Linked DNA regions of Homo sapiens. The protein of the gene in region 1 purifies or fractionates together with the protein of each later gene. This does not show direct contact. Each region holds a gene or a part of one and is shown in the gene's direction. Other genes may lie near its edges. The genes, in order: TRMT11 and GALC.

Evidence for each region.
Region 2: the proteins of TRMT11 (region 1) and GALC purify together in Homo sapiens (affinity purification with mass spectrometry; 2 studies listed by BioGRID and IntAct, with this or other methods). This does not show direct contact.

The regions. Positions count from the first base shown.
Region 1 is NC_000006.12:126,008,147-126,020,239, forward strand, and holds part of TRMT11 (tRNA (guanine(10)-N(2))-methyltransferase TRMT11), read left to right. Parts: intron 1-245; coding exon 246-326; intron 327-510; exon of another isoform or gene 511-599; intron 600-1,188; exon of another isoform or gene 1,189-1,288; intron 1,289-2,231; exon of another isoform or gene 2,232-2,493; intron 2,494-2,778; exon of another isoform or gene 2,779-3,045; coding exon of another isoform or gene 3,046-3,106; coding exon 3,107-3,271; intron 3,272-4,624; coding exon 4,625-4,706; intron 4,707-4,823; coding exon 4,824-4,955; intron 4,956-12,093. UniProt on the Homo sapiens protein: Catalytic subunit of the TRMT11-TRM112 methyltransferase complex, that specifically mediates the S-adenosyl-L-methionine-dependent N(2)-methylation of guanosine nucleotide at position 10 (m2G10) in tRNAs.
Region 2 is NC_000014.9:87,959,772-87,971,864, reverse strand, and holds part of GALC (galactocerebrosidase isoform a precursor), read left to right. Parts: intron 1-3,374; coding exon 3,375-3,530; intron 3,531-6,235; coding exon 6,236-6,360; intron 6,361-6,366; exon of another isoform or gene 6,367-7,661; intron 7,662-7,721; exon of another isoform or gene 7,722-7,977; intron 7,978-8,353; coding exon 8,354-8,481; intron 8,482-12,093. UniProt on the Homo sapiens protein: Hydrolyzes the galactose ester bonds of glycolipids such as galactosylceramide and galactosylsphingosine.

The DNA.
Region 1 (12,093 bases):
AAAATAGTGCTGTTTAAAATAATGATGCCAGGGTATACATTAATTTCTCTACTTTGTTACCAGTTTAGTGACTATAGCTTAGGGGTTTGTTTTTTCAGTCCTGAGGCTTACTAAATATGTTACGACCAATGTCATTCCAGGATACTCTGCCTGCAGCTAGTTTCTAAGACTGGATGAAGTTAAATAGGAACAAACAGGAGTTTGGGACTTACTGGTTAACAGGTCAAAATTGTGTGATTTTTCAGGTGGCCTGCTGATAGCATGTGCTCATTTTGGTGCATATGTGTATGGGACAGACATAGACTACAACACAGTTCATGGCTTGGGTGAGTAGAGATTATAGACAGTATTATAGTCATTGCTGTGGTGCCAAATGTACCTTTAAACATACAGTTGACCCTGGAAGAACACAAGTTTGAATTGCACAGGTCCACTTATACTCAGATTTATTTCCATCTCTGCCCTCTTGAAACATCAAGGCCAATCCCTCCACTTCCTCTTCCTCCTCAGCCTGCTCAACATGAAGGTGATGAGGATGAAGACCTTTATGATGATCCACTTCCACTTCATGAATAGTAAATCTATTTTTACTGAATAAAGTAAGTATAACAGTAGGCTGTTAGTAGTTAAGTTCTGGGGGAGTCAAAAGTTATATGCATATTTTTGACTGTGTGAGGAGTGGGCACCCCAACCCCATGTTGCTCAAGGGTCAACTGTAGTTTTATATGGCATTATTTTAATCTTCAAATACAAAATTGTGATATAATTTTACTTGTTTTTATAAGACTTCATTGGGTATCTACTTTTATGATCCATTGTGTACAGAGTGATTTCCTGGGGGAACATGAAGGTGAATGAGAAAAAGTCCTGCTCTCAGAGGGCTTTAAGGAAGTGCAGGAAAGTGATAACCCAGTGACCAGTTCAGACCTATAATTTATTAATTATAACTAATTAATAAATATACATGATAATGAAACATATTTGGTTAAGATTATCACCACTCATTTAAAGATTATCACCAAAATTATTCACTAATCATACATTGACTATATACTGGATTAATAACTAGTCTTTGAGGTACTATTTATGTTTCTAATTTTATAACTGACCAAAACCTCTTTAAAGTAACTTTAAAGATTCTGCCTTGAACTGAGAGTACTTGAAACAGTCATCTGCTTTACTTTTCAGGTAATTATGGAAAATATTTTAAACTCTAGAAGCTTCAATAATGATGTGTGATTGGATGGAATTGAATCAAACTGAAAAAGTATTTCCTTATAGCTTAATGGTATTGAAAATGTCATTTTATTGATGATTTTGAGATTATTTGTGTTTATGTTGGTATTCATTATAATAACTGGGATCAGCCCTTATAATACTCTTTTCCTTTTCCTCACCCAGTATAAGTTATTGTATTGGTGAGCATTTATTATACTTTATTTTCTTTTGTGGAAGTAATTTGATATCTTGTACTGGTGACCTGTCTTTTTCCCTACCTTGACTGTAAAGAATTTAGTAACATTTATTAGGAAAATGAGTTATAATTTATTAGGTGTATATAAATGGGCTAGCAAGAAAAAGATATTCTTTATCTGAAATCTGTTTTAAAAAGTACTAAGAATTATTCCAATTTGCTTTTAGTAGAAGCAGTATATTTCTTTTAAGGAAATTGTCTTATATAATTTACTTGAATTTTTATTTATTAAAGTTATGTTTGGAAACTTATGTTGTAACCTTCAGTCTACTGGGGTAGAATTCTGATTGAGGTAGTTCCCTTAGAGCTTATCCAAGATACTGTTAGGTATACCCTCTGTTTCCTGTGGTTCTGAACTCTTACTTTATCCTAAAATATTCTCAAGTTTCTCCTGTTTTAAAAGTACAAAACTTTTTTTTTTGGCAAATCTGTAGAGGTTCTCTAGCTACCACTTTGTTTTCCTTTTCCATTTGCCAAAATGCTTCTTGAAAAACTAGTATAACTTCTTGTCTCCTCTTCTTCATCTTTCACTCTCTTCTGGCCATTATTTTCCAGCTTCTGTGCCTATCATTCTGTTGAAAACGCTAACAAAGGCCACAGATTTATAGCATTTGACAGTGTTGACCTTCATACAGCTGCTCTTGGTTTCCTTGACAGTGGTCTTGGCAGGTGGTACTTTTACTTTTTTGTTTCTTCTCAGTCTACTTGATGCCCTGCAATTTTCTTTGATTTATGTTTATATATTGTTTTTTTCCAGGCGTCTACCTATCTTTGAGCACTTCTCCGTCACACTGCATGTTTTTCAGAGTCATGTCGTTCTTCTTTTGATTTTATAAGAATAATTATAGAGCAAACATGTAACTGCCTCCTAAGTGAACAAAAAGAATGTTATTCAGCCTTATGGAGTCAGTATAAGATTATATGCTGATAACTCCAAAGTCTGTATATTCTGGCCTTCAACTACCTGCTGAATGTCCCCACTGCGTATCTTTTTCTGAAAGTTCTGCAGGTACCTCAAGGTACATCAAGATTGATATATCTTAAATGAATCTAATCTTTTTTCTTAAGCTTGTTTTTCTTCCTGGTTTCTCTGATATTAATCACTGGTGTCATCATCCTAAACTATCATGTCTCCTAAACAAGGAACTTACGAGCTTCTTTAGCCTTCCTTCCACTCCCACTTTAACTTTCATTAGCAATGTCTCCATTTTGCCTCCCTTCCTCATGGTCACAACTGCGGCATTTCCCAAGTTCGCTCTCTTCATTTCTGTTTCATTTATCTGATTCATACTATCTCTACACAGGACTGTTTACTGCTGGAAGAAAGGAACCATATTCTCTTCAACTCTATCTTACTACAAAAATCTTCGTACTTGAAAATATCGAATGAGTGTTTTAAGGCAGTTTTACTTGGAAGTTGACAGAACAAGATAAGTTAGACATCAGTACATTTTACTGTTATGTTGAAATTAAAATAACTATTTACTTGTATACATAAAATTAAGATTTTAAATGAAAGCAAATTTTGAATAAATGTAGGTTTCAGTGAGTTAAAACATTACTTTTCCTAAATGACAGAAAATAAGAATACTCTGTTTAATACTTTCTCTCTTCCTTTTTCTTTCCCTTCAGGAAAGGCTACTAGGAAAAACCAGAAGTGGAGAGGACCAGATGAAAACATTAGGGCCAATCTTCGTCAATATGGTTTAGAGAAGTATTACCTTGATGTCCTGGTTTCAGATGCATCTAAACCTTCCTGGAGGAAGGGCACATATTTTGATGCAATCATTACTGATCGTAAGTTTATTTTTATACAAAAGTAGGAGTAGGATTCGTTTTGTAAAATCATTTACATTTAAAGTACAAAATTTACCAACACATGCACAAAATGCCAACTTGTCAGTATTTCTCCCATCTACCCCCAGCTTCTTCATCTTGTAAGGAGAAAGTTATGAAGGTACTTAACTACCTTGTTAAGGGCTTACTGTTTTGTTTTTTTAAACAAATATATTGGCTTGCCATCCCCTGTTATATCCTTTTATATTAACTTGTCACCCGTTTTTCCCTTCAGCTTATTTTTTTGAGGCATATATTTAGTATTTGTTTTTGTATTGACTATAATTGGTTATTATACCAACTGGAGCTCACATGTCATTTGCAATTATGGTGTCAAATTTTGAACAGAGTTTCAGATATCACACATTTCTCTATGTGTAAGCATTTGTGTTTTTGTAGTGCCTGTTTTCACTGGCATCTCCTTTCTAGCATTACAAGAAATTTGGGGTTCTGTGGAACCACTGGGCCTGTGAACCTACTGAGCTTCAGGAATGTGCATGAAAATTTATTTTCCCATGCCTCATGAGGTCGTGAGTTTTTTAGGCAGCCTATCTAAGAATAGATCTGCCTTTTCTATAGTATTTGACAGTAAATCTGTAAAAAGTGGCAAAGTTCAGCCCTTCTATCTCAGCTCTCTTTAGTTCTTTACTAACTTAGATTTTGTCAAATGTAATGTAACAAAAGAAAAATTATCAAGGCCTTATGGTTTCAGTGTGAATATACTTTATGAAAATTTAGTTTTTTTTAAATTAACAGTTTGCTTTATTATTTGCTCTCCCACTCTGTGTTTACTTATATAAAATACATTTTTTTTTTCCGATCAACTTGAGAGTAAGTGGTATACATTGTGGCCTTTTACTCCTATACTTCAGTGTGTATTTACTAAGAATAAAGATAGTCTCTTAGCAAAAATACAGTTATCAAGTTCAGTAAATTGATAAAATACTTTCATCTACAGTTTGCCATTCAGTTTTGTCAACTGACTCAGTAATAGCTTTTATGGCATATATTCTCCCTCTAGGACAGGATCTACTCTAGAGTCAGGTATTGCATTTCGTAATGATATCTTTTAGGCCTCCTTTAATTTGTAACACTTCCACAGCTTTTCTCAATGACTTTTATGACATTGACATATTTTAAGAAGACAGTTGCTCCTCTCCCAAGTCTTTATGTTGTACATTTTCAGTTGGATTTGTGCATTGGTGATGTTGTGTTCTTCTCAGGGTGTCACATTTGAAGGCAGCATGGCTGTTTGCCCTTGATCCATGATTTGGTGACTTTTGACTATCTGTGTTACCTTTGTTTTCTGTCTAGCTCCATATGGTATCAGAGAATCTACAAGAAGAACAGGTTCACAGAAGGAGATACCAAAGGGGATAGAAAAATGGGAAAAATGGTAAGTGAAATTTAAATATGATGTGTTACTACCTTGAGAAGAGGCATGTGGCTTCCCCGTTAACTTAGCACTCTTAAAATTTTTCACTGATTTTGAAATTTTCTTTTCTTTGTGTAGTCCAGAAAGCCATGTTCCTGTTTCCTTGAGTTATCATCTGAGTGATATGTTTCTTGACCTGTTAAACTTCGCAGCTGAGACCCTCGTTTTAGGTGGAAGACTAGTCTATTGGTTACCGGTGTATACGCCAGAGTATGTAATCTTAATTTTATTTTTAATTTCATTTTTCTTACAATGTTTGCGTATCTAGTATAATTTTCTCTTTATCTCTTCTTGCATTTGGTGCATCTTTATATTTAATTTGTAATAGCCTTTGTTTGCCTTCAAATGTGTATAAAATAGTCTTTTTATTTATTTAGTTTTTTGAGACAAGGTCTTGCTCTGTCACCCAGGCTGGAGTGCAGTAGTGCAATCGTGACTCACTGCAGCGTTGACCTCCCAGGCTCAAGTGATCCTCCCACCTCAACCTCCTGAGTAGCTGGGACTACAGGCATGCGTCACCATGCTCAGCTATTTTTTATTTTTATTTTTTGTAGAGGTGGAGTCTCACTATGTTGCCCAGGTTGGTTTTAAACTTCTAGGCTCAAGCAGTCTACCTGCCTCAGCCTCCTGAAGTGTTGTGATTATAAGAGTGAGCCACTGTACTCAGCCTCCTTCTTTTCATCAACTGAATTGTTTTGACCTTGTTATTTTATATCAGGGGTTGGCAAACCACGGCCTATGGGCCAGATATGGTCCTCAGCCTGTGTTTATAAGGTTCTTGAGCTAGGACTAGTTTTTAGATTTTTGAAGTGTTGTTAAAAAATATCCACACAAAATAATGTGTGACAGAAACATACAGTATGTGACCCACAAAATCTAAAATATTTACTCTCTGGCCCTTTATAGAAAAAGTTTTGCCAGCCCTTATTGTACCCTACACTTAGCTTAGTACCTATGGATCACAGCTGTTTTATAGCTCTTTTGCCAGTCTATAGATGTAATTTTCAACAGCTTAGCTAAAGGATTCACGCTTCTGCTACCTTCTAATGCTAGCTTTAATATATATTGGCTATTATGATTATCTTAAGTACAATAAATCAAAAGCTAAGACCAAAATAAGAGCTGTGCATATATTTAAAGCCCTGATTATGTTCAGCATTATTGCTTTGAGTTTTGTTATTCAGTAACTATTAAATATAAAGCTATATATATTAACAGTAAAAGACAAGACGTTTGAACAAGATGGAATGTTTAAATTTGAAAGGTATTGCCAAGCTCAGTAGGTTATTTCTTCAATCTGACATAGATATATTTTTAATACAATTATTTTAATTCCTATATTTGTATTTGTATTTTATTTTATTTTATTTATTTTTTGAGACAGGGTTTCACTTTGTCACCCAGACTGGAGTACAGTGGCACCATCTCAGCTCACTGAAACCTCCACCTCCTGGGTTCAAGCGATACTCCCACCTCAGCCTTCCGAGTAGCTGGGATTACAGGTGCACGCCACCACGGCCCGCTAAGTTTTGTATTTTTAATAGAGACGAGGTTTCACTGTGTTGGCCAGGCTGGTCTTGAACTCCTGACCTCATGATCCACCCACCTCAGCCTCCCAAAGTGTTGGGATTATAGGCGTGAGCCACCGTGTCCGGCCAATTCCTATATTTATTATACATAATTATACAGTGGTAACTGTCTTTTTCTACAAAGATTGGTAGTCCCTCAGGCTTTGGGACCCTCAGCTATTTCTTGTTGTTTGTTTTACAAATGCTGTATTTAAAATTACCATGGCCTAACTCTAGTTATGCATTTCGTTATCAGCTGATAAGAGAGAATACATTTGTACCCAGATCCCTTAACACTGAGTTTTTTTTTGTTGCTAATGATCATCTCATTTAACCTCTTTTAGAAATGAGGAAACTTAATTCCAAGGAGTGAAATGACCTATCTAAAGTTAAAAGCCAGCTAGCTAATTTGTTTCCTTATTCCCAGTGCTGTATTCACTTAATTCGACATCCTGCCAGATCTCGTATACTTAGTACATGAAATGATAGGTGAGGTTTTATTAGTATTTTCAGATAAGAGTATATTTGTTCATGTCTTTGTAAAAAGGGTTGCTGCCTTAGCCAAACTGAATTCCAGCAACAAGCTACTTGCTTTTTGTTTAATTCAAGTTGTAGGGCTAAAATAAAAAAAAAAAAATACTGTGAAGTAATTTCAAACTTACAGAAGTTTCAAATACAATACAGAAAACTCCCATCTCTACCCTTATCCAGATTTTTCCAATATTAACATATATCTACCTCCCCCCGACTCCTGCACATATCTATTATCACTAATCTTTTTTTTGAGATGGAGTCTCACTCTGTCACCCAGGCTGGAGTGCAGTGGCATGATCTTGGCTCACTGCAAGCTCCGCCTTCCGGGTTCACGCCATTTCTCCTGCCTCAGCCTCCCAAGTAGCTGGGACTACAGGTGTCTGCCACTGCGCCCAGCTAATTTTTTGTATTTTTTTAGTAGAGACAGGGTTTTACCATGTTAGCCAGGATGATCTTGATCTCCTCACCTCTTGATCCACTTGCCTCGGTGCTGGGATTACAGGTGTGAGCCACTGCGCCCAGCCTATCACTAATCTTTTTGAAACCATTTGAGAAGTTGTTGGTATGGTGCCCTCTTACCTCTATATATGTCATTGTATTTTTCAGAAACAAGAACATTCCTATCTAACCATGATCCACCCTGCAAGTCTGGAAGTTAGCATTTATAACACTATTCCATGCAGATCAGAGACACCATTCAAATATTACCAATTGCAATCCATGTAGGAAACTGTGCTGTAATCATCTATCCTATCCTTTTTTGGTCTTCTGTGGTCTGGAATATTTTCTGTCTTTCCATATCTCTTGTGTCCTTGGAAGTTTTGTAGAGGACATGGCTTATATTCTGAGTGTTGACTCTCAACCGGGGCCATCTGATGTTTCTTCTATGACCAGAATGAGGTCATGCTTTCTTGGTAGGAATACCACAAACATGATCTTTGCAGCACATCATATGGCACACAAAGCCACTCCTCCTGGTAATGTTAACTTTGATTGTCTGGTCGGGCTCTTCTCTGTCAGATTTCTCCTCTCTGAATCATCATTTTCTTCTTTGATTTGTATTTTATGGGGAAATAAGATTACACTAATATCTTGTTTTTCATCAAACCACTACTCAGATTAATGACTCCATTGTTGACAGCCACTTCTGAGGTGGTTGCCAAGTGATTCTTTTTTCCATCATTTCTTTTGCATTTGTAAGTTGGTATTCTGTAAGAAAGAGCTTTTCTTTCTGCCCCATTTACTTCATTAATTTATTTATAGTGGTATGGAGTCATGGATTCCTATATTATTCATTGGGTTGTAATTTATTAGTAGCAGTATTTTGTTGCTCAAATTGTCCCAGATTTGACCAGTGGGAGTTTGTTTGAGCTGGCTCTTCTGTCCTTTTGAAATATCCTCAGTAGTTTTTTATGTAAGTCCTTCCTTTTTAGCATATCTGACTGTTCACTGTTTTGCAGTTTATTATTTAATTATAATCAAAATCATATGTGGTTGAGAATTTATTTTGGAGTTCTTTTATTCCTTTATAAAAAGTAATATTGGAGGTTCTTTAAACTGAATGTATTTCTAAAGACTTTAAAAAGTGGCCACTGGATATTTCTTCAATGACTTCTCTATTTTAGTAATTTTAGATGAGGGAAGATTTCCAAATACATATAACCAAAGTGATGTTTTAGAAAGGGAAAAGGGAGACATGTTTTAGGGATTTTTTTTTTTTTGTCTTAGATGTTTTATCAATGGATAGATTTCTTCTAGTTACGTGTCTAACACATGTGGGAAGACAATGGTGGCATTTATTTCCCTGAGTTTTTGGCCCCTGGAGAGGGTTATTTTCAGATCCCCTGATGTTCATTATTAGACCTCAATTGTGTCTTCTCTCTTTAAGCCTAAAGCGATCTTATTAATTATTAATAGTGAACTAAATTTGTCTTGAGTTTATGCTAGAAACATGAACTGTTTTCATATTCAAGGTCTTTACTCTTTTGAAAATTCTTTACTGTTTTGAAAATAACACAGTATCAAGATGAATTTGAGTCTAAAGTCATCTGTAAAAGTTTGAAATAATATTCATTTGAATTAAACAGTTTAGAATAGTTTAACTATGTTATATTGAAAATGTAGCTTTATATTGGACCGGGAATAAAAAGGAATTCAATTTACAATTGTACCTTAGTGTAGCTTAATTTTAAGTCTTTTGTATTTTTGGTGTGGTGAATGTAGGCTATTAGTTCTATTAATGAATTAATTTACTCTCAGCCAAACCCTGTTATATGATTCAAGTTACACATTATAACCAAGTTCAGGTATTATTTTAACCCAGGATTGATTGAAAAGTATAAGACATAAAAGCAAAATACTGCGTAAAAGCTTAGTTGTATATGGAAAATTGTGAGAGCTAATGATTGAAAAGGATTTTCTCACTGTTTGACAATTTAAATTGCAGTAAAGAAACTGCTACTCAGAAACTTCTGCTGTTCTTTTTCCTTCTAGTCTACACTCTCCCCACTCCAGTATATCAGACTTTTTGCCAGCATCAAGATACTCTGTGCATTTTATGTCTTTTCACTTTTGTTTATTCTGTCCCCATTGTTTGAGATGCCCTTTCTTCTTTCCTCAACTGGTAAAAATCTAGTCATTTTTCTAGGCCTGGCTTAATTGTCACCACTTCTGTGACACTTTCTCAGATACTTCTCAGCAGAATTAATCAGTCCATCCTCTGTGCTCTCATAATAGCTTGTTTTTACTGCTTATAGAGACTTAACACATAAAATTACTGTAGACTGTTGGTATTTGTGAGTTTATTATTTACAATTTTGACTACTTACAAATGACCCAGATTATGTGTTGCAATCATGTGTACAGGGCATCAATCCAGTGTGTACACATACAATCCAGGTGTTTGATGTCATAGGAGCCAGTGTGCTACTGAGTGAGTGTAGCTGTTTGCCCAGGCTCCATATATCCATTTAGCTTTATCTAATTTCATTGTACACAGATAACTCTTGAAGTGATTAGAAACAGTGTTTCTTTATAAATGATGACCTTTATAGAAATCCAGCTGCTAGTGTTAGTGATAACATGATGACATACTTATATTAAAATAGCACATTGTACCCCCCAAATATGTACAATTATAATTCATTAATTAAAAATTTTTAAAAAGGTGAGAAAGAAGCTAATAATGTGCCCCAAAGTAGGACTTGGAAATAAATTTTGATTGTAGTAAGGTGAACTTTGCAGTGCCTATAATGAGTGAAGAGAACATGTTTTTCATCTCTTACTTAGGAAAGAGGAAAAAGTGATTTTTAAGCTGTTTTTAGTAAATGTTCAATCAATGCAAAATCTGTTTCTCAAATGGGAGCTGAAATTCTAGTGACATTTGGGAAGTAGTTGAAGCAGGAAGATTCACAGGAAAATGAGTGACAGTCAAAATTGATTCGTGGAAAATCTAGGGGCCTATGTACACAATTATTTTTTTTTAATTGACATAGAATTTGTATACCATGAAATTCACCCCCTTAACGTATACAACTTCATGGTTTTTAGTTTATCCACAAAGTTGTGTGACCATCACCACTAGGTAATTCCAGAACATTTTCCTCACCCCCGAGAAGTACCCCACAGACATTAGTAGTTACCACCCCCCTATCTCTGTCAACCACTTGTCAATCTCTGTGGATTTGCCTATTAAGGATGATTTAGTTTTTAAATAGATAACTTGGATTGTAGGGGGATATTAATAAAAACAGGGAATTAAGATGGGATTTAGTACTGTCATAATGGTCCAGGCAAAATATAGATTTATGCCTTCTACTTAACCACTTGCGAACATTCCATTGGAATGAAATATATTGGTAAATATACAGTGAATAATTTTATTTTACTTTATTTTATTTTTTTTTTGAGACAATTTCGCTCTTGTTGCCCAGGCTGGAGTGCAGTGGCGTGATCTCGGCTCACTACAACCTCCACCTCCCAGGTTTGAGCGATTCTCCTGCCTCAGCCTCCCAAGTAGCTGGGATTACAGGCATGTGCCACCATGCCTGGCTAATTTTGTATTTTTAGCAGAGACGGGGTTTCACCATTTTGGCCAGGCTGGTCTTGAACTCCTGACCTCAGGTGATCCACCTGCCTTGGCCTCCCAAAGCACTAGGATTACAGGCGTGAGCCACCACGCCCAGCTGAAGAATTTTTTAACTGCTATTTTTTAATCTTTTTAGTATGGTGCTTTGGGAGTGTATTGTTAAATTAATTGGCTCATTAATATAATAGATTAATTGTTAAAAATGAATTAAGATCGAGTCAAAAAAGATAATATGAAACATGCAAATATGTTTTTCTGCTGTTAAAACCAAATGCAGCAACTTAGTTTAGCAGTTTAGCGTCATTCATGTCATAGATGTTAATTAAAATTGTGTTGGTACCTTGGATTTGATTGATAAATTTGCTTTTTGGGTTTTATAGTTATATTAGGGATCTAAACATGAAGAGTTTATATCTAATTTATGCTTGTGCATATTTAAGTGACACCTTAATAAAAAAATACTTTAAGTCAGTCCACCAGGAAGTAAAAAATTTTTTTCCTTTAAAAATTAGTATATTACTTAGTTTGACACAAACTGTTTCCAGCATCTATAGATCCTACGGTTTGCAAGCTTAAGGTTAAGGCTATATCTTCTCTCTGTTAGCACTTTTTATTTTAGTCTCAACCATGGTGTAGAATATATTCTTTCTACTGTACTCCAGCCTCGGCAACAGAGCAAGATCCGTTCTCTGAAAAAGTAAAAAAAGAATTTATTCTTTCATGTCATAAATGCATTGCATGAAGATTCAAAATTTGATGTCATTGTTATAAGAAGTACAACATTTCTGGCTATGTAGTGAACATTAAAGAATTACTAGATGAGGTGAAATCTGAAGTGCTCATTACTTGTTAGAAAGCTCTAGGAAGAAGTCAGAGAATGACTTCAAGATAATTCTTTCCACTGATAATAAAGTGAAGTGCATTATGAATGATGCTTGGGAAGTGGGTGATGATGGGTTTGAGCATATGGTTGAGGTAATAGGGAGAGCTCGTTGAAGGTCAGTGGGACCTAGAAAAGTTCATGAAAGAGTGGTGGTGAAAACAGTGTTGATGCATTAAAACAGGTAGCTGAGATTGTGGTCCTTTACATGAAAAACTAATCAGCACCTTTGCTATTTTGGAGCAGACCTTTAAGATTACCTGTATAATAAATGTGTGC
Region 2 (12,093 bases), on another chromosome or scaffold:
ATGTTGAAGCTCTACCATTCCTGATTATTTGCTACCTTCTCCTGAAATTGTTATTGCTTAAACCTGTATTGTTCAATACAGTAGCCACTAGACACATATGTTTAGGAAGCACTTGAAATGTGGCTAGTTTGAGTTTAGGTGTGTAATAAGTATAAAATATACACTGGGTTTTGAAAATTGAATATAAAAATATTATTTACAATTGTTTTACACTGATTACATGTTAAGTGATAATATTTTGGATATATTGGGTTAAATATATCATTAAAATTATGTTCTCCATGTTTTTCTGCTTTGTAAATTCAATTAAATTTTTTCCATTTATGTGTTTTATTGTGGTAAAGACCTTTGCTGGTTTTTAATGTGGCTGCTAGACAACTTAAAATTGTCTATGTGTGGTTCATATCATATTTCTACCAGACAGATCTGGTTTGAACTGTTACAGTATTGGGTTTGATCTCCTAATGAATTCACTGTTTTGAGCATTGACCCCTAACTTCAAGCCTGTGAAGATGTTCCCATCTTCCTGAGTTGGTCTTCTATGCTCCCCCTTAGGGTAGGGTCTACTCCTTTTGTGTGAGTACCGGCCAGTCCCCTTTCACTTCTAGTTTCCATATACCATCTGCTGATCCTGGGCCATTTCTGATGCTGCGAGGCTCCTGGGGAGAGTCCCTGTCACCTGGTTTGATGGCAGTGTTATCTGTGAGTTTTTCCTTTCCCTTATCTGGTTGGTCAGTTTGGTTTCAGGAGGAGTACTGAGGAGCTTCAGAAACTGGGCTGCTGTCATGTTCTGCCTTGGCCAGAAATTCTAATTTTTTAAAGTACAAATATGTTCCTCTGTTAGGATAAACTATAAAGTTGGTTTACTTTCATTGATCTTAATTTTGTCTGTTATTGAAGTTTGAAAAATAATGCTGTGAAGTGATAGAGAATGTTTGCCTACTTATATACATTAAAAATTTATATTCTTTTTTTTTTTTTTTTTTTTTGAGACAGAGTCTCACTCTGTCCTCTGTCGCCCAGGCTGGAGTGCAGTGGCGCAATCTCGGCTCACTGCAAGCTTTGCCTCCCAGGTTCATGCCATTCTCCTGCCTCAGCCTCCCAAGTAGCTGGGACTACAGGCACACACCTCCACGCCTGGCTAATTTTTTTTTTTTTTTGTATTTTTAGTAGAGACAGGGTTTCACCATGTTAGCCAGGATGGTCTCAATCTCCTGACCTCGTGATCCGCCCGCCTTGGCCTCCCAATAAAAATTTATATTCTTAAAGAGCCTTTACATTTTGTTGCACTAGTAATAAATCTATACATTAAGAAAGACCCAGATTTTAGTATTAGTTCTGCCTTTCTTTGCTCATATCATGTAATAAATCATTTGGGTTTTGAATGTGGTAACAGTTTCATCATTTTCTGAATGAAGGATATATCACCTATTCCTATAACTTCAATAAAGTTACTTTTTCATTTTATAAATATAATATGCTCATTATAGAAAATTTGGAAAATGTAGAAAAGTATAAAAATAGAATTTCCTCATAATCCTAACATCTACTGATTATTGGTAACATGCTAGCATATTACTTTACAGTGTTTTCTTTAATATAGAAATATATTTTAACCAAATACACCAAACATGCATTTGGCAACTAGACAACTGGATGACAACTAGATGAGTATTAAAAATTAACATTTGGCTGAGGTACCAAAGCTGAATTTCATGGAAATAGAATGGAGTTGTGGGATAGAAGAATAAATCTAAAGTGTAATTTTTTGAATTTATATTATTTAAAAGACTAGTAGCCAGATTTTTCAGGTTGGGCGTTATAGTTCCAGAACAATGATTGCTTAACCCTGTTAGATGCTAGATTTCTGTTGGTATCTTTGTAGTGTAGATTTGCAATATTGAATAGATGCCTGCTTTCACCTGAGTTTAGTGACTCAGTAAAATCTTAGTGGAACCTCATTTTTCTCTAATACTTCTTTTTATGTTCTCCAGTATATATTGTATATTATTTTCTTACTCATGAAATCCTGGGATGCCAAATTGATATTGTGCCCTAATTCATCTTCACTAGGTATAAAGAATTACCAAATAGGATTTTTTCCTAAAAGATTTGTGACCTAAAAGGGAATTAAATAACTAAAAAGTAAAACAAGTATTCACAATCATTCTTTTGATGTTATAAATACTACTACACCAAACTACAAAGATTAGAATTATGATATAACTTAATCTCCATTATTTTGCTTGCATTGTTTTTTGTAAATAATTTTTAAACTAAAAAGTAGATGCTCTTATTCCTACAGTTATTTAGCTAGTGTGCTCTCTTATTGGATTGTCAATCTATTTTCTATTTTACATTTAAAATTTATTGTTTTTATTCCTATAATCAGTGTCTTCCACAATCATCATTATGGGAGTATTTTACTCTTGCAGTAATGAATATGCATTTATACTTCCACCAACTGACTCCCCTCCCATCGAATGATAGAGTGAAGGAGGCATTCATTTTCTGGGGCAGTTTCTCACCTGCTGCACTATTGATATTTTCAATGGATAATTTTTTTGTTGTAGGGGTTGGTCCTGTGCATTGTAGGATGTTTAGCAGCATTTTTGGCCTCTCTTCTCTAGATGCTAGTAGCAAATATCCCTGACCCCAGGTGGGACGGTTGAAAAAAATGTCTACAGATAGTGCCAAATATTCCCTCCAGGGACAAAAATCATCTGGGTTGAGAACCGCCACTGCTCTGATACAGTAATTTAGTTTTCCCAAGGTAGCTTATTCTTTTTATTCAAGAAATAACCATGTGTGGGTTTTGTTTTTTGTTTTTGGCCTGGGAGTAAATGCCAAGCTATCTTTCTGTGTTCTAAGGACAGGAGTAGTGGGGAGAGTACTACTTTATATAAAGGTTTCACTAGTCTTATTTTTGGCCTCCTCCTCACTCGTTTACTATTGCCCCAAGCTCCTTAGCTTCCCCTGGGAAGTCTGAATCTTATCTTTACTTCATTCTCCTCTTGGAGTGTTCTAGGCTGTGGCCCTCTCTGCTACCTCCATCCTTCAACATGCTTCCATCCATCTTGTGAGCTCCAGAAATAGATTGAAATTTCTTATCTATTGATGATTTTCCTTCCTATCCTGTATGCTGTTGTAGGTTTATCCCCTTTTGTTTTCTTTGCTGTCATTTTAATGGCATGCTGAGACAAAAGGGCATAAAGCAGATGCTTAGATTCATTATCTACCTGGAAGCTACCCAACTGTTTTAAAATAGAAAACCTTGGAGAAGACTCGTATTTTTATATACTCAACAAATCTATACGTATATAAGTGCCACGTCGTGACCTTTTTTCATTGACTTCCACCCTTTTTTTTTCTAGGGCTCATTATCCTGGAACCCATTCAGCAAAAGATGCAAAGTTGACTGGGAAGAAGCTTTGGTCTTCTGAAGACTTTAGCACTTTAAATAGTGACATGGGTGCAGGCTGCTGGGGTCGCATTTTAAATCAGAATTATATCAATGGCTATATGACTTCGTAAGTTATTAAAAACCTTTTAGAGTTCTTATCAAAAAAAATTTAAAAACATAAGAGTTAGAAAAAAATGGAATTCCTTATTCTTCCAGCCTAGATTCAATGATTGTAAACATTTTGCCTTGTTAGCGTCATCTATTTGTATACCTATACCTAATCTATATCTAATTTTCTATATTTGAATATAGTCTATATTAAATAAAGTCAGGTTTATTGAGGTATAATTTATATGTAGCAAAATACATGCAGCTCTCTGATTTTTGACAAGCTACTTGTATTTTTAATAATTATAAAGTAAATAGTATATGTAAGGACACTTTATCTCTAAATATTTTAGCATGTGTCTCCAAAACATAAGGATATTCTTTTACATGATCACAGTATCATGTTTTCATACATGAGAGTGTTTTTAATTCTCAGTCTATATTCAGATTTTCCTAATTGTTTCCCAAAAATGTCATTTGTAGCTTTTTTAAAGAAAAGGAATAGTCAAGCACACACATATTGCATTTAAAAGTTACACCCCTCAAGTCTCCTTTAATCTAGAGTGGTTTCCTTATTCCTCATTTTTGATGACAGTGATCTGTTGAAAAGACCAGGCTGGTTGTGTTGTGGACTGTCTGCTTCCCAGCCTGTCTGATTGATTCCTCATGGCATCACTTGATATGTGTAATTGTTTGTTTAAAAAACAGATGTTCTTAAGGGAGAACACAACTATTTTTGTTCCTAAGGGAAGCATTTCTTAAATGCTTTGAAAAACACTTGAATTGTGAATAGATTCCAATTAGCTTTTTTTAAACAATGATAAATAGAACAAAAACAAACCAATATTTATGTATTTGTTGTGATGTTAATGTGGGTTGCTGTATATTGTATTTGTTCTTTTTCTTCTCTTTGTGAAAGAAAAGACACTTAGGAGAGTTTGGTTATAACTTAATTTGGTCTTAAAGGTAAGGCATCTTCATGGCAGAGAATTTAGAAAACTGAAGATAGGTACAAAGAAAGAAGCAAAATCACCTACAGTCTTATGATCCAGAGCTAACCATCCTAAACATTTTTAGTGAATGTCCTCCTGTTTTATATTGGCATGTATACATTTTAAATACAAAATTGAGACCATACTATAGAATCTGTTTAAAAAACTGCTTTTCACTTGAGACGACATTAGGAACTTTTTCTCACATTTACCTATATTTCTACTTCATCATTTTTAATGCATTTTAAAATATTTTGTTACATAAAGCACCATTTCCCAGACTTGCCTTAAGAAGCACCCGAGACACTCGTTGTTATACCTTCTCCTTGGCAGCTGCCCAGACATTGTGAATCAGAATCTACAGGGAAGGCTCCTGGTATTCTGTCCATCTAGTCAGTGCCCTCAAGTGATTCTGATGCCACACAAGTTGGGAAACACTGATGTGGAAAATATATTATTGTTTATTGAATATTCTCCTCTTTTAGAATTGGAAGTTGTCTCTGTTTTAATTAATAGCTTTGTACAAACTGAAATGTTCAATTGTATACAAATATCTTTGTATATGCCCATGACTATTTTCTTAGGCTGTATTCTTAGAAATGGAATGGTCAGAAATACATAGATTTTGAAGGGTTTTGTATGTATTTTACAAAATGCCCTCCAGAAAGCTTGTCTTGAGTTATACATCTATCACTAGCCAGAAAGGATACCACACATCTTGCAAACCATGGGCAAAATTATAAGAACTTAAAATATTCACTAGTAGTAAGGTGTTTTGAAAATTAGGACTATTATTTCTACTTTGTACTGATAGAATTAGAAGGCTTTGATTTGCTAAGAATGTCAGTCTCTTTTTTTTATACTGGATGAGGACTTGATAGGAAAAATAAAATTCTGTGGGTAAGCTTTGTTTTTTTTAATCTGTGAGGGACCCAACAATACCAAGTTCAATAACTTCCCTTTTGTCCTTGGATTTCCTGAGAAGCAGAGAGTCAAAGTTTTAGGGTTTAGCACCTGCTCTGGACTGTTAGGGCCTGATCATCTGAGAAAGAATGGGCCACAAAGCAGATCAGCAATTAGATCCAATTACTACTTATAGATGAAGTGGAATCATATTTAATAGCAATACTACGGCCCAGACCTTGTTCCATACTCTTCCTATGCATTAGTACATTTAATCCTTACAAACTCACGTGAGAGAGATATAATTATTATCCTCATTTTACAGAGAGGTTAAGTGGTGAAACCATGGTTTAAACCCAGGCAGTCTGACTCCAATAATTCTCAATTGTAAAACTTTGGAACAGTTCAGAGTCAAGTTCATAAAAATTATGTCATAAAACTGGGGCATTAAGAAGGCTGACTGTTGAAAGGAAAGTAGGTATGCACAAAGCCTTTATTTGTATTTGACTCAAATTTGTGATGTGTTGGGTATTGGTAAGGCATGATTCGTCTTCTGGCTATACCACAGTTCAGTAAAAATTTGCACATAATACATTTGTATTTTTTATCATGTGATTCACCATTAAAAATATTACAATGTACCCCACACTGGATTTTTCAAAATGTGAATAAATTTAGACAACTTATATTTTCTTATTTTGGGTGATCCTTTTATTGTCATTTATGTAGATGTGTATTACTATGATAAAGTCTTTTTACTCCAGGTTTTTAGACATTTACATTTTTATCACAAGTTGTCTTGGTGTTTCTTTTTTATCAAATCTTTTAGCACAATCGCATGGAATTTAGTGGCTAGTTACTATGAACAGTTGCCTTATGGGAGATGCGGGTTGATGACGGCCCAGGAGCCATGGAGTGGGCACTACGTGGTAGAATCTCCTGTCTGGGTATCAGGTATGGTTCAGTTCCATCTCTCACTCCCTAAATTCTTCTCTAAGAGACAAAGCAGAAAAAAACTTAGAGAAGATTATATAAACTGTGTGTCTATGCGTGTTTTAAGTATAGATTTAAGTTTTAAGCAAGATTTGCCAGTGTTTTATAAGAATATTTTGGGTAACTAGACTACTCTCTGATTATTCTAAGACCAGGCTTTTAGAAAAGTGTAGGAGAGGAGGGGGAGAGAGAGGAAAAGGAGGAGCTGTGTAGTGATAGAGACACAAATAAATAATCATCTAAGGATATAATTACAAATGATGATAATTGCTAATAAGATTATGTATTTATAAACAGAGTAGAAGTCTTAAGATTAGCTTTGAAGACATTTTGTTCTCTTATATTAATAGAGTTTCAATTACAATCGTATGCTAGCAAAATCAAAGGGAGATGATTAAAAATACTGTATTATTGAATCATCAAATGAATAAGTAAATATGAAAGTTATGTGAAATATGGCTTTATATTGTCCCCTAAATCTGTGAAATGTGGGTTGTGAAAAGGTAAATTTCAAAATAGGTAACAATGTAAAGCTCAAAAGATTTTAAAAGTGAGCACGTACTGAAGATTTTATGTTACTCATATGATATGAAGGATCCTGGCAGATAGATGGTAGATGTTAGAAACAGTTGAAATGAAAAGTCAACATAGCACAAATTTTCGTAGTGTAAGGGAATTGGAGATGAATTGTCAATGGAGGCAAATTGGGTTTCCCACAACAGGGAAGAAATTAATTAAATTTCTACCAGACAAGACATAATTTACATAGCTCAGAGACAATGAACAGGGCTATAGATAATACATCCGTTTTTATTGAAACACAAAAGTTTTACTACAGTATCATTCATTAGTCACAAGGGAAATTGAGATTATGCAGGGATGGATGGCATAGTGTCACTTTTTCATGAGGAGATAATAACCATACTAATAGTGATTATATTTTAAACAAAGTAACAAAATCTATTGCTGAATAATGTTGAAACTTTTCTGCAGTTTTTTTGTAAAAGATTATAAACATTTATTACCATTTTGTTTTAAAATTCTAACAATCTTTCTAAAAAGCTAATTTCTTTAAAGGTAAAATGCTTTCAGAAGAAAATTATGAATTTGGAGTGAATTTGTTTTTATTTTAAACTTAAATTTGGTGGTTTTCCCTTTTAGTTGTGCTCTCCTAAGACAGATTTGTAATCATATTAATCATGTAATCATGATATTATTCTAAACTCCTTAAATTGTCCTCCAAAAAATATAAGAAAATTAAGGTTAGACTTGTATATTGGACTTGTATATTCTAATATTGAGAATTATATGAGAAAACTAAGGTTAGACTTGTATATTGGACTTGTATATTCTAATATTGAGAATTATATGAGAAAATTAAGGTTAGACTTGTATATCAGCGCCTTGAATGTTGAAATTGTTGGCCCCACATTATCTAGATGAACTAATGTACTCTTAATTTTGTGATTTTTCCAAGGGTTGGGACATGGTATATTGCTTAGTGCATTTTCAGGACGAGCTTAGGAGGTGACCAATAAATGTACATGTGGTGGAAATAAATATGTTTGAAACCATAAAGTTAGTTTCTGAAATTCATTATTAACTTTTTAAACCTTTTTTTGGTAGCTATTTTAGGATGGATTAAATAGTGATGAACCAAGTTTGGGGGGGGAATAACTATTTTATTCTTAAAAAAAAGACTGATCATATTCTTGAACTGACAGGTTCATTTATTTTTACCCATCATTCCAGGAATCTTCTTGCAATTGTACCATTTATCTAGATTAATTATTTAAAAATTTAAACATGAGGTTGACGGATATATTCCTGCAAAATAGAAAATAGCTTGTTTGGATGAATCAGACTCAAATTGATATACAGCTTTTTTTTTTTCCCAAAAGAAATACTATTATTACCATTTTTGTCTTATTTGGAACTTTCTGTTTTTCTATAGCTCATACCACTCAGTTTACTCAACCTGGCTGGTATTACCTGAAGACAGTTGGCCATTTAGAGAAAGGAGGAAGCTACGTAGCTCTGACTGATGGCTTAGGGAACCTCACCATCATCATTGAAACCATGGTAAACTTTTGTTGTTGCTATTGGATTAACTCACTTCTTTACTATTGGAAAAATAAAATATAAAACTGAATACTTTTGTTTTACATGTAAATACATAAGCATACAGACAGATGCCAAGATCTTATGGCTTTCATTTAAAAAATTTTAGCCATGAGTCGTAAAACATAGCACACAACTCACTGATTTGTACAAAATAGTTGGCTCTCATCTTTTCTCCACTTTGTTCCTGGCAGTTGGGATAAAATTAAGGTTACCTGTGTACCAATATTTGTGGAGACGACCTTCACGACCTTCCCTTGCCCTGATATGTATATGGAGGCTGTGGCTTTTTCCTTTTTCATCCTCAGGTTGTTTTGGGGAGACCTTAAGTCTGTTGAGAGCAACGAGCTTAAAATTCAAGTGATTGAGGGGCTTGAGTAGGAAGGGAATAGGTCTGACAGGTGGACAGAGGCATGGGAGGAGGTAGGGGCTTGAAAGCAGACATATCAAGGATTCAAGGGAACTGAATGAAAGAATGAAGGTGAAAAAACATGGAAGCAGAAGCAGAAGCCAGTGGAGAGAAGAAGAAGTCTGAGAGGTGCCAGTGTGGGGAGATCTCAAGCTTCCCAAAGAGGTCAATGAAGTTCCAACAAGAAGGAGGTAGACAGAATAGGAAGTGCATATAGTCAGCAGGGCTTTGTGAAGAAGGATTTCTAGCAACTAAGTTCCCATGGGAGAAGCAAGATCCAAAACAGAGAACAGAGTAGCCTTAAAAAAATGGTGTGTGTGTGTGTGTGTGTGTGTGTGTGTGTGTGTGTGTGTGTGTATCATATCAGGTTCTGAATGTCAGCCTACAGTTTGGCCAACTCCTGACCATAGACTCTTAAAAAACAAATTCTTTCAAATATCCTACTATCAGGTTTGAGCCAGGACAAACAGTAAATATTCCTGGCAGTATTGACCTTTTCAAACCAAAGGTGTCTATTAAGTGACTCACAACACAAACCAATAAGCCTTTTATGTCTTATCGTGGATGAAGAGGATCCTCAAAAGAGGGTGTAAAAAGATGCAGCCCTCCCAGAATCTACACTTCATCGTAGTCAAAAGGTTGAGAAGTGATCCTCCAAAGACCTAGAACCACTCCCAAGGATAGTCAAAAGAAAGACCCAGATAACCTCCCTACTCCCCACTCCCTGTCAGAGCTGGCGATAGTTGGTAAACTGGCTGCAAATAGGGTGCGAATCACATTTTTGTCTGGTTATATTCTTGGGGCCCCCAACTTGAAGTTGGCTGCCTGCATACACAAAACTGACAGCTCACACATCCCTAACAGGTGGGAAGTCAAGCCAGGTTCTCAGTACACAAAATGAGACAAATAGGAAAGCAATAGCTGACCCTGGGAAGGAAGGGATCTACAGGTAATGAGCACCCAAAACTAAATTTATACAGGAATCACAAACCAAACGAATGTTTTTCTTCTGCGAATCTGCATTTGGAGAGGAAGGGATGAGGAGGTTTTTGTTTGTTTGTTTGTTTGTTTAATTGTCTTCTCTCGATCGGGTACTTCAGGCAGAGATCCAGAAGAGCAGGCCTTGGTGAGAATTCTTAACCTTTCTGCCACCTTTTTGTCAGTGTCTCAGGATCTCATCTGCAGGCTCTTAGAGTGAGTAGGCATCTCATCTTCTTCACCAGAAACTGTCTTCAGAGATAAGGAAAATAGGGAGAGCACCTGTTGAGTGAGGGTCTTATGACCTGCTTCAGAGGAGAAAGGAGAAGGTCAGAGAGTAAACTTCCTGCTTCTACATTTTTCTCAAATTATTTCACTTTAAAATATTTGCGGGGAGTGTGTCTTGAACCCCATCATGGCTGTTATGACTAATGGTGTGGATTAGCATATGTGTACAAGTTTTTCTGTGAACGTGTTTTCAGTTCTCTTGGGTATGTATGTAGGAGTGGAATTGCTGGGTCACATGGTAACTCTGTCTTTAGGATTTTGAGGAACTACCAAATTGTTTTCCAAAGTTACTGCACCATTTTACATTGCCACCAGCAGTTTTATGAAACTTACAATTCTCCACATCCTCCCTAACAGTTCTTACTGTCCATGCCTTTGATTATAGCCATCCTAGTGAATGTGAAGTGCTATGTTATTGTAGTTCAATATGCATTTTCCTAGGGACTAATGATGTGGGGATCTTTTCATGTGCTTATTGGCTAGTAGTATATCTTCTTTGGAGAAATGTCTATTTAAACTCTGCCCATTTTTAAATTGGGATATTTGTGTTTTTATTATTGAGTCATAAGTGTTCTTTGTTCTATATAAAAATTCCTTATCAGAAATATAATTTGCAGATATTTTCTCCCTTTGTATGGGTTGTCTTTCATTTTCTTAATGGTACCCTTTGAATTAAAAAAAGTTTTAAATTGTGATGAAGCCCACTTTGTTTTCTCTTTTGTTTCTTGTGCTTTTGGTGTCATATCTAAGAAGCTATTGCCTAATTCAAGGTTCTGAAGATTTATATTTATGTATTCCTTTAAGAGTTTTAGAGTTTTAAATCTTAAATTTAGGTTTTTGGTCCATTTTCTTTCTTAACTGGGGTTATATGTGTGTCCAACTTGATTCTCTTGCATTTTAATATCCAGTTGTCCCTGCACTATTTTTTGAAAAGACTATTCCTTTTTCATTGAATTGTCTTGGCATCCTTGTTGAAAATCAATTGGCAATAAATTTGAGGGTTTATTTCTAGAACCTCAATTTTTTTCTGTTGACTTATATATCTGTCCTGACGTGAGCACCACACTGTCTTAGGTACTGTAGCTGTCTGATAAATTTTGAAGTGAGGAAATGTGAGTATTTCAACTTTGTCATATTTTTATTTTTTATTGACACAGGGTACAATTTGATGTTTTGATACATACATGTGGTATAATGGTCAAATCAGGGTATGCCCATCACCTCATGAATTTATCATTCCTTTGTGATGAAAGCATTCAAAAGCCTCTCTTCTAGCTGTTTTGTAATACACAAAACCTTACTGTTAACCGTCTTCACCCTAGTGTGCAAGAAAACACCAGAACTTACACCTCCTGTCCAATAGTTACTTTGTACCTGTTGACCGACCTCTTCCTGTCCTTCCCTTCCCAGCCCCACCCTAGTGTCTGGTAACCACTGTTCTACTCTCTGCATCTGTGATATCAACTTACACCTCCTGTCCAATAGTTACTTTGTACCCGTTGACCGACCTCTTCCTGTCCTTCCCTTCCCAGCCCCACCCCAGTGTCTGGTAACCACTGTTCTACTTTCTGCATCTGTGATATCAACTCTTCTTTTTTTTTAATTCTACATGTAAGTGTGATCATGAGGTATTTGTCTTATTGTGTCTGGCTTATTTCACTTAACATCATATCCTCCATATTCCTCCATTTGTTGCAAATATCAGGATTTCATTCTATGACTAATAGTACTCCATTGTGTATATATATATCACATTTTCTTTATTCATGCATTCATTGTTGAACACTCAGGTTGATTCCATATCTTGGCTATTGTAAATAGTGTTTTAATAAACATGGGAGTGCAGATACCTCTTTAACATATATATTTTATTTTGGGGGGATATATACACAGTAGTG